Linked DNA regions of Homo sapiens. The protein of the gene in region 1 purifies or fractionates together with the protein of each later gene. This does not show direct contact. Each region holds a gene or a part of one and is shown in the gene's direction. Other genes may lie near its edges.

Region 1 (3,500 bases):
CACAGTGCCTGGGTTTTTGAAGCCTGGCTCTGCCATTTACTACCTGTGAGATTTTGGGCAAGTTACTTAATCTCTCCTTCCCTTAGTTTCCTCATGTTTAATGTGGGATCAATAATAGTAGCTGAGACCAGGCATGGTGGCTCACACTTGTAATCCCAGCACTTTGAGAGGCTTAGGTGGGCAGATCACTTGAGCTAAGGAGTTGGAGACCAGCCTGGGCAACATGGTGAAACCCCATCTCTACAAAAAACACAAAAATTAGCCATGTGTGGTGGCGCACGCCTGTAATCCCAGCTACTCAGGAGGCTGAGGTGGAAGGATTGCTTGGGCCTGGGAGGTCTAGGATGCAGTGAGCTGAGATGGCACCACTGCACTCCAGTCTAGGGGACAGAGTGAGAACCTGTCTCAAGATAATAATAATGGTACCCACCTTACAGAATTATTATGAGATAAATGATTTGAAACAGTTAGAGTAGTACCTGGTATACTAAAATACTCAATTTGTAGTATTAATAGCTGTTAGGATTATGATTTTTGTATACAGAAAATTCAGCTTCTCCCATCTTTAAAGGGCAAGAGGATCTTCTCAGCCTTAATTCTGCATTTACTTCTTCCTGCCATTTATCTAAAGACCTCTGATGACAGCACCTCCTGGGTTTGCTGAGCCCATTTTTCCCTGGAAGGGGGTTGGACAGAGGTTTTTTTTTTCTTTTGAGACAGAGTCTCACTCTGTCACCCAGGCTGGAGTGCAGTGGTGCGATCTTGGCTCACTGCAACCTTCACCTCCCAGGTTCAAGTGATTCTCCTGCCTCAGCCTCCCAAGTAGCTGGGATTACAGGTGCATGGCACCACACCTGGCTAATTTTTGTATTTTTAGTAGAGATGGGGTTTCACCATGTTGGCCAGGGTGGTCTCAAACTCCTGATCTCAGGTGATCTGCCTGCCTCGGCCTCCCAAAGTGCTGGGATTACAGGAGTGAGCCACTGAGCCCGGCCTGGACAGAGGTTTTAAGAACTACAATTATTGTAGCTGTCTGAATACCAGTAACATGGTATTCCTACATTTCCCAAGTAATGTAAGGGCCCAATTAGGCTGGCAGAATTTTTGGAAGCATTAAAAGCCATGTGATAGACTCAGATGTTATGGAACTCAGCATAAAGGAGTAAACTGGCTTCTCCAGTTGATATAGGCTGTGCCTCTGTCCGTATTGCAATGTCTTATCTAATTCCATCCCAGCTCAGTCCCTTGCCAACCCTTCTCCCATTACTCAGATAGTGCCATTATTCAGGATGGTAGGGAGGTTGGGGTAGTGCAGTTTTATTTATCTCCATCTTGTGCTCCTAATGTCTTCAGAGGAGCTTTTGGTATCTTGTAACCTAAAGTGCCTACTACCTTAGGGTGACCATCCAGCTCCTTCCAACATGTACATGGCCAGTATATCACTCATGTGCTTACTTGTCTACCATTCACACATCAAAGCAAAATGTGTGCACTACAAAATTTCTGCACTACAGAAATCTGACAAAGCACAGAGAAAAGAGGTCATAACCCTGTCTACATAGCTGAGCCATTATTGCAGGATGGGCTGTAGTACAAGGGCCCTGAGATGTAGGGAAAGAGTGAAGAGGCCCCACAGGGACACAGTCAGGTGATAGAAGTTGTTACTCAACTTAAAGGCTTCTCACCGGGAGTTAAAGAATCTAGGGTCTGAGAGAAAGCCTCTGTAACATTTTCTTTTTCTTTTCTTTTTTTTAAAGACAGGGTCATGCTCTGTCACCTAGGCTGGAGTGCAGTGGCCCAATTGTAGACCACTGCAGCTTTGAACTCCTAGGTTCAAGAAGTCCTCCCCCCTCAGCCTCCTGAGTAGCTGGGACCACAGGCATGCACCACCATTTCTGGGTAATTTTTTTTAAGAGGTGGGGTCTCGCTATGTTGCCCAGGCTGGTCTCAAACTCCTGGCCTCAAGCGATCCTCCTGCCTTGGCCTCCCAAGGTGCTGAAATTATAGGCATGTGCCACCACATCCAGCCCAACATTTTCAAAGATAGTATTTATTCTTTAGTATTATGTGACTGCTATAATTTTTCTTCAAATTTAAAAAATAATTTTTCTTTTTAAATTCTTTATTCTCCTTTCTTTTCAGTCCTGGTTCCAGGCTTATCTTCAGCTTTTTAATTTGGAAATTTTCAAACCTCAGTAAAGTTGAAAGAATGGGATCTTCTAGATTCTTCAGTTGTTATATTTAACCACATTTATCTCATATGTCTACGTATTATCCAGTGATGTATCTGAATAATATCTATTTAATTTCTCTCCCTAGATATTCTTTTTTGCCAAATCTTTTGAAAATAAGTAGTAGACAATTTGACATGTTTACCCCAGATACTCCCGCAATCTCCTTTTAGTTCTTCACCCCAATATTGTGCTTCAGACTATTTGGAACAGTGTAGGATGCTGGCAAGTACCAAAACAATTAAGTAAAAAAGAAATTTGTTACCAATAGGGTAACAAATGACCCCTGTTGCAGTTGTATCTCTGCTCCTTTATAGGCAGCAGTTGTGTAAGAGGATATTTGTGGCTTGAGGGCTGTGTGTCTGTGTGATTTCAGGGTGCAGCCTAGCTTACCCCTCCATGTTCTGTGACCTGGCCATGAAATCTTCAACATCTAGTGTTTTAAAGAAGATAGGGCCAGGCGTGGTGGCTCATGCCTGTAATCCGAGCACTTTGGGAGGCCGAGGCGGGTGGATCACCTGAGGTTGGGAGTTCGAGACCAGACTGACCAGCATGGAGAAACCCCATCTCTACTAAAAATACAAAATTAGCTGGGTGTGGTGGTGCATGCCTGTAATCCCAGCTACTCGGGAGGCTGAGGCAGGAGAATCGCTTGAACCCAGGAGGTGAAGGTTGCTGTGAGCCGAGATTGTGCCGTTGCACTCCAGCCTGGGCAAGAAGAGCGAAACTCCGTCTCAGAAAAAAAAAAAGAGAGAGAGAGAGAAGACAGGACACCTTCAGCTTTTGTACTCTCCTACCAGAGAAGATAAATGGTGGTGATACTAATTTTGACAAAGAGGAGAAACTGTGTCCTCATGGACACATAACTGAAATACCTGTAAAATACTGACAAAAGATGGTGAGGACTGGACTCAGTGGCTCATGCCTGTTATCCCAACACTTTGGGAGGCCAAATTGGGAGGGTCATTTGAGGCCAGAAGTTGGAGGGTGCAGTGAGCTATGAATGTGTCACTGTACTCCAGCTTGGGTGACAGAGTGAGACCCTGTCTCAGAAAAGAAAAAAAAAAATTAGGGGAAACTGGGCAAATGCTATATAGGAACTCTTTGTACAATCTGCAACTTTTCTCTAAATTTAAAATTATTCCAAAGTAAAACATTTATTTAAAAAAAAAGGTGATGAAGAGATAGTGTTAGAAGGAGAATCCAAATAAAATGTTGGCTTTTTACTTTTTGTTTGTTTGTTTGTTTGTTTTTTTGAGATGGAGTCTT
Region 2 (3,500 bases), on another chromosome or scaffold:
GTAAAATATGCAAAAGCCTTAGCTAACATTTAATGTCTCATGTAGGGCGAGGATTCAGTGAATGGTACTTAATTATTATGTTTCTGTTTTTTTCCTGCCCTAAGCTTTCTGGAAAGAGGTACATTATTATCCTGATAGCTATCTGTTCACCTACACCAAAGAATTCATTAATTTGATTATTCTTTTTCCATTCCGAGTGAAAGTAAACATTACTGGCTGGGGCTTAGACACATTGTTTCTGATGATTTTTAAATTAATGCTTCCAAGTGATTCATGCAGTTTAGGACCTTTGACTAGTGTTTAAGTGCTTTTTATTTGTAAGTAAAGAGGCAGTACTGTGGATAAGGAGCGAGGATGGTACGAGCATTAGCTTGTTTAATAGTAGCATGAGGAAATCTTAAATAAAAGGAATTTTACTTGAAACTGTTAGTAAACTTTGTATAATAAATTATTTAGCATTCTGTTCCTATCAGCTAGTCATATCTGGTTTTTAATCTACCATTTTTATGTCAGTCCCTTTAATGTTTAGTTTTCTTAAATCAGGGAATCTTATGTGTCATTTATCAGTTTCCTCAAATTCAAAGTTCTATTTAATGAGCATGGGTTAGGGAGGATGGAGAGTTGGAATACTCTATTCTCTTTTAAATAGACAAACAAAAACAGTAACGATGGGAAAGAGAGGGAGCACTTTGTTAAAGTTGGCATTGATGCCCTGTTTTGTCTTCCATGACTTATTCCCTTCACAATGATGATAAATGAACACATGTGAATACCTCCTCTCAATAAGACTGCAGTAGCTCCACCATTTTAAATAACTTACTGAGTGTGGAAGTCAGGTAGAGTAGACATGCACAAACTCATGATATATATGCCAAGTGAGTTTGTATGATACAGTGGAAAAAGGCCTGGAGTTAAGGTCAAAAGATCAGGTTTCTTATCCCAGTACTAGCACTTGTAGGCGCTGTACTCTTAAGCCTCATTTTTTTTTTGTCTTTTTTTAATCTGTGATCAAGGATGAAAGATAGTACTTGCTGTTGAAAACATCAAATAAGATGAAATGGTTTTAATAATGAAATTAATGCTGTTGTGTGAATACTAGTTATTTTCATACTAAGGAGCAAGAATTCATTGAGTCTCAAAACAGGTTGTGTTATTCTGTATACAGTATTATTTTACATTAATGCTACGAGCAGTAACTGCCCATTGTGTTTTCTAAAAATCATTTAAGTGATCTTCAGTGAAAATTATAATCTCCACTGAAATGTTCTGTGTTTAGCCTATCTTAGGTTTTTATTTTCTTTCTTTTCAAAAGCCTTAAGTACATGTAAACCATTTTAAAATGCCCTTTTAATCCTCCTCAAAGGACTTGCTATGCCTCAGGGTTGAAGTTTTGCTTCCTTGGGTCAAGCATAACATGATTCCATATGCTAGAATCCTAATTTGAAGGAGAATATAAGTTTCCCAACCTTATTCCCTCTTCTAGGGTAAATAAACTACACTTCAGTTCAACAGTGTAGAACTTGGTAAATTTGAGAACAGGCCTCTGTTTCCCTTAAGTGATAGGAACTTTCTGTTCTCTTTCTCTAACTTCTGTAATAACGTGGAGCTGTTGTTCTTTTCGTATGGTTTATTCTGCAATCCTAGAAACCTTTTTAAAAACAATTCTATTCTGTTAGAAGTCAAGAGCATAGTTACCCTTGGGGGTGGGAGGTTGTGACTGGGAGAGGGTAGCAGAGGAGTTTCAGGGTTCAGTAGTGTTCAGCTTCTTGATGTGGGTGCTGATATATAGTTGAGTTCACTTTGAAAATTTATTGAGCTTGTAGGACTTAAGGTCTTCTCTGTGTATATATTATACATATTCCAATAAAATATCCCAAAATATTGACCTCACCTTGGCATTATCCTCAACAAGTCCTCCTTCAGTTGGAAGGTTTGTTTTCTTCTCTGTACTTACAGTTTGAATTAATCTGCTATATATTTTGTTTTAATTAAGTAAACTTAGGAAAAACCTGGGTCTGCTATGTTTTAAAATGCTTATAGAAAAGAACCTGAAAGGAAGAAGGGCAAAATCACTTATTCTAAGTGGTATGATTATTTTGATTTTTTCTTTATACTTGCCTATGCTTTTCAAAATTTCTGTTATGCGTTTATTACTTTTGTAGTCTATGAGAAAAATCTGTACTGTCGTGAAAGAAGAAATAAACTGTATAAACTTGGGGCTTTTCATAATAGGATATGAAAATATATTTAGAAAACATCATTATAGGATAACAGTTTTTTTCACATTTGTACTTTGTTACAGATATGCTAGTCTGTATTTTTGCTGTGCTATTGAGGATCAGGACAATGAACTAATTACCCTGGAAATAATTCATCGTTATGTGGAATTACTTGACAAGTATTTCGGCAGTGTGAGTAGTATTTTATTTTAGGAAATTGAATGCCATAGTATATTTTGGAACCTTTTCTCTAACAAGTTTATTTTTTGGTTGTCTTGGGGATTCTAACCGCGGGAGAGGGTGGGAATGACTATTTATTAGTAGAAATTATTAAGTTGTCCATATTGGGAACATGCAGAGCCCAGTCTTATTTAGCTTGTAGGAATATGTTTTCAAGTACTTGAGATTTGGAAATTAAGCTTACTTAAACCAGTGATACTTAGTCATTTTTAGAAAGAGTTAAGATTGATTCACTCTAGTTCGATTTTATTCACTACCTGATAGTGAATAAGCATCTTCTGCTTCTGCAAGTTTTAACAATTTTTTCTTTTCTTTTTTCTTTTTTTTTTCCTTTTCAGGTCTGTGAACTAGATATCATCTTTAATTTTGAGAAGGCTTATTTTATTTTGGATGAGTTTCTTTTGGGAGGGGAAGTTCAGGAAACATCCAAGAAAAATGTCCTTAAAGCAATTGAGCAGGCTGATCTACTGCAGGAGGTAAGCTACTTATTCTCTTCACTAGGCACTAGCATGTTTTGCTCTTGCTGGGGAAGTCTCATTCATCATTCTTACAGTTTCAGAAAGTACTCTGAAGCATGCTTGTCATGTAGTGTCCATCCATGTGCAGTTTATTGACTGGAATATGTGTCAGTCACGTCAACTCAGTTATCTATGGATGGATGGTTCAGTTTGGAGATGGTCTATCGGTCAGGCCTCTTCCCAATGGCCCTTTTTGGACCCTAAAACACTGGAGTCTAAACCTTTAGAGGACAGACTATTTGAAGAAGGGAAAAGATTGGCTGAAAGTAGCAGTAAGTTGAGAACTCTCCATCTATTGCTTCAAATTGTTTAAGATAACCCCCTTTTTCATTAGTGTAGATAATCAGGAGTTGACTATGAGATTATGACATTTTAATTCCAAATTGGCTCATATTTTTACCTCATGTCCATTAAATGCAAAAGTAGCCAAGCAAATGATAGTGTTTTCTAATTATACTTTTTGTAGAAACTTCCAGGTTTTTTTTGTTAGCAAAACTAAACAGTATTTGCATTTCTCTTTGCT
Region 3 (3,500 bases), on another chromosome or scaffold:
ATTTTAGATTTGGTGTTTGACATGTTTTTCAGACAATGGAGTCAATGAATGGTGGAAAACTCTATTCCAATGCATATCTGAATGATTTAGCAGGCTGCATCAAAACATTGCGCTACTGTGCAGGTTGGGCTGACAAGATCCAGGGCCGTACAATACCAATTGGTAAGTATCTTTGAGAAACCACTAATGGTGAGGATAGGAGCGAGGAGTTTACTATAGAGCTGAATAATTTCAAACTCTCCCTTTTAAAGATGTCAACCAAATAAGGCAAAATTATTTTCCTCTTGACTTTGAGACAACACAGTTTTCAACTTAGAAGTTCTATTAAAATTCATAAAAGGTCTTTTAAAGTTGTTTCAGCATAATCATGAAGATAACATTATAGATATTTTAGAAAATGTCAAAGTAAGAACATTCCTTTGGCAGTAATTACTGATCTGAGGCAATTGCCTCTCTAAGGTCCCAAACTTTTTAAAGCTGACCTCTGAAATTATTTATTTGGGTTTTATTCCAATACTGACATTTATATCCTTTCTGTAATGTAATTATTTAAGCCTCTTTACATGTTCCAGTATAAGTCAGTTATGGTCATCTGTGCCTGGTCAAACTCAGTGTAGTTAGACCAGACTAATCAAACAAGCCAGTTCACACGGACTCGTTTCAAATATCTTCAAAGCAAGATGGGACTGTGTTTGCAGCCTAAGTTAAGGGTTTGTGTGTGTGAATCTGTACGTATGTGTTATTTTAGTGGGGTATGCACATAATGGAGTAGAAATACTAAAGATATTTCATGTGAAACATGAAAACACACACATTTAGGAAACAGTATGGGTGGAATTTAATTCAGGCAAACCTATGAACTTTAGGAATACAATACCCTCCAGGACTGGCCCTGATGTGCACTTCCAATCCAATTGGAGCATGCAGGAGGTCAGAAGTGATAGCAGAAAGTTGAGAGGAGAGTAAGACCTCGGTGGTACTAAGAAATGTGGCTACTTTAGAACTGTCCTACTTTACTCCGGGACAAAATGGGAGAAGTCACTTAAAACACAAATAGATCTTGATGAAGAGAGTCCTTGCTGAAACCAGGAAGCTTCTGTGGGAACTAGAACAGAATTGAATGTAAAGCATAATGTATCTCTCTGGATGACCACATTAAACTTCGGGGCACATAAATTGGTCAAATTTAGATTGAAAATAAATGTCTTATACTCCTGTCATTTTCTTCATGTATTTAGAGAATTTGCTATTATTGTTTGGTAGGCAAATAAAATACATTTTAGAACAAGTCAGTAGGAAAGGCTTATTACTCATAGGGAGATTTTCTTTTTAATTCTACTGTTTTTAATTTTACTATTTCTAAAAATTATATTATAACTTTTAAAAAGAATTCTCTTATTGGTAGAACTTTGAGCTACCAGAAACAAATTGGAATGTGGTTCTTCTCTTCGCCAGAGACCTCCTACTTCCTTTCTCGTCCCTTTTTTATAACACTTAGAGAATAAAGATAATTTTCAAATCAGGCCTCCTAGAAGATGAAAGGTGGAATTAATTATCTTTCAGATTTTTGCCAATTTTGCCTCTTTGATTTCACCTAACTCAATTTTATGGTTCCTATCATTTCGAATTACTATTTTAGGGCTTCACTTACCATTTTGGGAATAGTTGGAGATATAGATGGTCTCGATCTCTTGACCTCGTGATCTGCCTGCCTCGGCCTCCCAAAGTGCTGGGATTACAGGCGTGAGCCACCACACCTGGCCAGATATATGTTTTTAAAATTATTGTCTACACCTTTCTCTCACATCACCAACCACCATTTTGTGAATGTCAAATACATTTGTTTATATATGATTGTGTGTGTTTTATTTTTCAGATGGAAATTTTTTTACATATACAAGACATGAACCTATTGGTGTATGTGGCCAAATCATTCCTGTAAGCTTTTCTCCTATATAATTCTCAATTTTAAAAAGAAGAGTTCTTATTCTATCTAATGATGAAGCTTTCTCTAAAACAGATGGATGCTTATGTATTTGTTAAATGTGGAGTAAATGTAAGATTTGTTGAACTTGGTCTCCCTGTGACTAAACTTCTTGCATATGAATTAGGTAGTCCGAAAACCTATCTATATTCTGGCATATCTCTTGAGAATGTTTTAATACTACATCATCCATAAATGTTAACCCTTTACTCTATGGGTTGTTTTATTAAAAGTTGTATTATGTACTCTTTATAAGAGCCAAGCTTTACATGTATATGGCAAGGTGCTCTCCACTGCACATCTGCAGGATAGCATTTTGGTGGAATGTAGTGGGGCCTACTATTCTCCAACGCACTTTCTCATTGAGACATCTCATCATGCAGAACAGTAGCTCCCAGAGTGTTCAACTCATGACACACATTTTTTAATCAAAATGGAAAAAAGAATACCAGAGGCATTTGAAGCACTGCATGGAATATATTTTACCTTTAGATAAGAGGCTCAGATCCTCCATATTACTCTTAGAGGAAAGTAGCCTTTTTAAGAGGATTGTGAAGATTTTTTAAGCCCAACAAACAGGACACTATCTAAATGATTTTATTTTAACTGACATGCTTTAAAAGGCCAAACAAAAAAATGGTAGCGAAGTCCTTATGTGAAGAAATGGTCAAGACTTATCTTTGGCTCCAATGAGATTGAAATATATTCATATCAATATTTTAGTGAAATTGCTTATTAATTCAAAAGTCCCAATAAATCGATAAAAACTATATAATTATGAACACTGATAATAGCTGATATGTACTACTTGTCTATGCTAGACCAGTCATTGTGTTGAGCCCCTGGCCCTCTTTCTTGGTTAATGCTCAAGACAGCCTTCTGAGGCAGAGAGGACTATTATCAGCACTCACAGATTATGAAATCAGATACAGAGAGCACGTAACCTGTGTGAGTTCACATGGCTGGTCAGTGATTGAGCTGAGATTTGAACCCAAGTACTTGGCCTCTGGACCCTGGACATCTTTGTCTTTAGCAAGGTATTTTTCCTGGAAATAAAAGCTACTAAATAATATTATTGGGTAAATAATTACAATAAATGACTTATGGAGAAGGAGAGTAATCATCCTTTTTAAACATTTTTAGATAACTTACAGTGTGCTCCATAATAAGCCAAACCATGCAGTGATTTTTTTTTTCCTGGTAGAAAAAGAACTCAACAGTACTTGATTAAATTTTGAGGTTCTCTCCTATTTCCTTCTCATATCTCATATCTGGTTTATTCAGAGCGTTTTAGCATTTACTAGTTGCTTTTAGCAATGAAGTATAATATGCCAGATGATTTCACAAAACTACGCAATTATTACATAACATCTACAGGGGGTGTATAATATGGAAGTTGGATTAGCAAATATGCCTTTTGCAATACAAAGAATCTATTGTTACATATTGCTTTCTAGTGGAATTTCCCGTTGGTTATGCTCATTTGGAAGATAGGGCCTGCACTGAGCTGTGGAAA
Region 4 (3,500 bases), on another chromosome or scaffold:
TAGGCCTGGGGCTAATATGTGGTGAGGGTCATCCCAGTGGCAAGCCCCCACCCCGTGAACCCCCTTCTTACTGCACACCTCCAGCTCCTTGGGTGTGGGTGCAGGAGCTTGGTGCTTTCCGCTGGAGCAAATGTCCCTACTTGGTCACCGTTCCTGTCAGCCCCTGGGGATCTCCAGCACAGAGGCCTATGCTCCCCTGGCCTACAACCTTCTCCTGGGGCTCAGCTGCCAGCACAGCAGATGCCTGAAACTGGTACCGCCTCTGGCCCAGCCTTTCTCCCGGGGCTGTGGAGGGGACAGTGGTCCCGCAGAGGTCTGGTGGCTCTCCTCATGCACCATTTGCTTGGCCCCAGGGCGGGTCTTCCTGGGGCTTCACAGCAGGCAGCAGTTTTGTGCTCACTAAATCCAGGAAAGTGGAGCCAGGAAGCCAACTGCTTGCCCTCCACCTGGACCTCACAAGCTCTCCCCTATCCAGGGAGCTAAGCCACATTGTGCTGTGGCATTTCTGTGTTTCTCTGTGGGGCTCTGTATCCCCTGGTACAGTTTCCTGGGGACAGCAGGCTCTGCCCTCCCTCCTCCCTGCCCTGGGCAGCTCCTGGACGGGCACCAAACAGGCCCAGCCCACTGCCTGCTCCGGAGCCACCTGCAGAAGGAGGCTGGGGCGCACCTGGGCTGTTTCTGCTTTTTCACTCTTCTGAAAAGTGCTGCCATGAGCATTGCCCGGCTGTGTCCCGTGGCAGCTTCCTGGCTGTCGAGGTGATTGAAGGGCTCTTGCTGTAGGAACTTCACGCAGCTCAGACAGCCCATAGAGGCACAGGCTTGCCAGTGGGGAGAAGGCAGGCTCAAGCAGGAGGCAGAGCCTTCCCAGAACCCTTGCTGCAGCACGGTCCTTTTGTCATTAGAAAGTGTTGGTCGGGTGCAGTGGCTCATGCCTGTAATCCTAGCACTTTGGGAGGCTGAGGTGGGAGGATCACTTGAGCCCAGGAGTTGGAGACCAGCCTGAGCAACATAGTTTTATTGCTACATCCCTACAAAAAATAAAATGAACTAGCCAGGTATGGTTGCCCATGCCTATAGTTCCAGTTACTTGAAACAAGGCTTCCGTGAGCTATGATCATGCCACTGCACTCCAGCCTGGGTGACAGAGTGAGAAGATGTCTTTAAAAAAAAAAAAAAGGGTGGGGCGCGGTGGCTCATGCCTGTAATCCTAGCACTTTGGGAGGCTGAGGTGGGTGGATCACTTGAGGTCAGGAGTTCAAGACCAGCCTGGCCAACATGGCGAAACCCCGTCTCTACTAAAAATACAAAAATTAGCCAGGCGTGGTGGCGCAAGCCTGTAATCCCAGCTTCTCAGGAGGCTGAGGCAAGAGCTGAGGCAAGAGAATGGCTTGAACCTGGGAGGTGGAGATTGCAGTGAGCCAAGATCGTGCCACTGAACTCCAGCCTGGGCGACAGAGTGAGACTTTGACTCAGAAAAAAAAAAAAGAAAAGAAAGCGTGGGTCATTTGTTTCTGTGCACTATGCTCCCAGCCACTGTTTTGCCAGCCTTGTCATGCCCGTTCTCTTGGTGTTACCACACCCCTGAAATCAGAAGGTGACACCATCTGGTGGGCACCACAGCTCCCTGCTGGAACATGTCCGGGTGATGAGGACTGTCCCCAAGAGAGGTCCAGCCACCTCTTGCTGCACACCAGGGCTGTACGTGGCCTCTTAGGACCGTGCTGAGCTGGCTTCCGTCCCTGCTTTGACACCTGTGGTTAACATGTCCCTGGGATCCCTGGGGGACAGGCGAGGTGCCCCCACATCCCCTCCATGCTTCTCAGCATGGTTGCCGCTTACCTCTTGGTCCATCTGAGCCACAGCACCAGGCCCTGCTGGGGGCTGGAGCTCCCTTTTACCAGTGTTCCCTATTGATCCAGTTGGTGAGGTTTAATTTGCAGAGGAAGTGTTTGAAAATCTTATCTTTATCTTTCAGAAAAGTCAAGTACTTTAACATCAAAGCCAGCTTTGTTGACGAGCACACGGTTTGCGGCGTTGCCAAAGGTGGGAAAGAGGTGAGCATCTGACTTACTCGCGTGGCTCCTTGTGGACCCTTCTGCAGACCTTGGGCACCAACTGCAGCTGTGTTTGGCCTGGGTGCTGTTCTTAGTAACACGTGCTGCTGGAATCAAAAAGGTGGCTTCTTTTGAGGCTGGGCACTTGTCTTTAACGTGATCAAATAATTTGCTGCCCTGCTGCTCGGAGTGGCATGGCAACAGGGTTGGTGACCACACCCTTTTTGCAGGATTTTTTGGGGATTTGAGGGTGCCTTGAAGTGCTTGGAGTTAGAACATCTCCCTGTGCTTTCTGCCTGTCCCCCTCCTGCCAGGCTGATGGTTGATGGGATTCCAGCTCCATAGGGCCTCTGAACTGCTGGCCAAGGGTCCACGCTACAGGGCAGGGGCCGTGGGAACTGCTGGCCAAGGTCTGTGGTGCTCAGGCCCTCCGGTGGGGTGATCACCATGCACCTGTCTGACCCACGGCTTTCTCTTTTTCTCCTCAGATTCTGCTGTCAGCCGATCACATCATCATTGCTACTGGAGGGCGGCCGAGATACCCCACGCACGTGAGTGTCCCCAGAGCATAGCGTCCCTGCTGCCGTGGCCCATTCCCGGCCTCTTTGAGGGATACGTTTTTACACACGTGCTTCCCACAGCAGCAGCTTGCACACCCTTTCCCCCTATACTCACTATCATCACTTTCTGCTTTCCAATTCTCTTGAATCCACACTGCTGAAATGTGGGGTCCCCAGTGGCCTCCACGCTGCCAGATCCTCAGGACAGCTCTCGTTCTGCTCTCCCCCTGCCCCGCTGGATCTGTCCCCTTCCACACCAGGATCCTGCTTCCTAAGTCTCCATTGCTGATTCCCCCTTTTCCCTTCAGCCTCAGAATGTTGGAACATTCAGGATATAAGCCTCATTCTTCATCTTCCTCCTTCACGTCCCCCAGTTTAAAAAAAGTTTGAAATAAAATTCACACGCTATAAAATTTAGCCTTTTTTAGGGTACAATTCAGTGGTTTTTAGTACATTCACAGAGCTGTGCGGCCATCAGTCACCACCATCCATTGCCAGAACTCCTTCCATCATCCCTGAACTGAAACTATTCCCATTAAACCCTACTCCCCAGCGCCTCCTCCCCCAGCCCCTAGAAACCACCACCTACTTTCTGTCTCTATGAATGTGACAACACTAGGCACCTCGTGTAAGTGAAATCGTACATGTAAGTCCTTCTCATGTAACTGGTACGTGTGTGTCCCTTAGTGACTCGTATGTGTGTGTCCCTTAGTGACTGGCTTACTTCACTGAGCATAACATCCTCCAGGTTCACCTACATTGTAGTGTGTGTCAGTATCATTCCTTTTTATGGCTAGATACTATTCCATTGTATGGATAGACCACACTTTGTTTATCTACTTGCTTGGATAAACACATGTGTTATTTCCACTTTTTAGCTATTATG

The links.
Region 2: the proteins of PI4K2A (region 1) and AP1S2 purify together in Homo sapiens (affinity purification with mass spectrometry; one large-scale study listed by BioGRID and IntAct). This does not show direct contact.
Region 3: the proteins of PI4K2A (region 1) and ALDH1A1 purify together in Homo sapiens (affinity purification with mass spectrometry; one large-scale study listed by BioGRID and IntAct). This does not show direct contact.
Region 4: the proteins of PI4K2A (region 1) and TXNRD2 purify together in Homo sapiens (affinity purification with mass spectrometry; one large-scale study listed by BioGRID and IntAct). This does not show direct contact.

Annotation. Positions count from the first base shown.
Region 1 is NC_000010.11:97,668,171-97,671,670, forward strand, and holds part of PI4K2A (phosphatidylinositol 4-kinase type 2-alpha), read left to right. Parts: intron 1-3,500. UniProt on the Homo sapiens protein: Membrane-bound phosphatidylinositol-4 kinase (PI4-kinase) that catalyzes the phosphorylation of phosphatidylinositol (PI) to phosphatidylinositol 4-phosphate (PI4P), a lipid that plays important roles in endocytosis, Golgi function, protein sorting and membrane trafficking and is required for prolonged survival of neurons.
Region 2 is NC_000023.11:15,844,814-15,848,313, reverse strand, and holds part of AP1S2 (AP-1 complex subunit sigma-2), read left to right. Parts: intron 1-2,302; coding exon 2,303-2,411; intron 2,412-2,797; coding exon 2,798-2,935; intron 2,936-3,500. UniProt on the Homo sapiens protein: Subunit of clathrin-associated adaptor protein complex 1 that plays a role in protein sorting in the late-Golgi/trans-Golgi network (TGN) and/or endosomes.
Region 3 is NC_000009.12:72,925,554-72,929,053, reverse strand, and holds part of ALDH1A1 (aldehyde dehydrogenase 1A1), read left to right. Parts: intron 1-32; coding exon 33-162; intron 163-1,876; coding exon 1,877-1,938; intron 1,939-3,441; coding exon 3,442-3,500. UniProt on the Homo sapiens protein: Cytosolic dehydrogenase that catalyzes the irreversible oxidation of a wide range of aldehydes to their corresponding carboxylic acid.
Region 4 is NC_000022.11:19,914,319-19,917,818, reverse strand, and holds part of TXNRD2 (thioredoxin reductase 2, mitochondrial isoform 5 precursor), read left to right. Parts: intron 1-1,975; coding exon 1,976-2,054; intron 2,055-2,542; coding exon 2,543-2,605; intron 2,606-3,500. UniProt on the Homo sapiens protein: Involved in the control of reactive oxygen species levels and the regulation of mitochondrial redox homeostasis. Maintains thioredoxin in a reduced state. May play a role in redox-regulated cell signaling.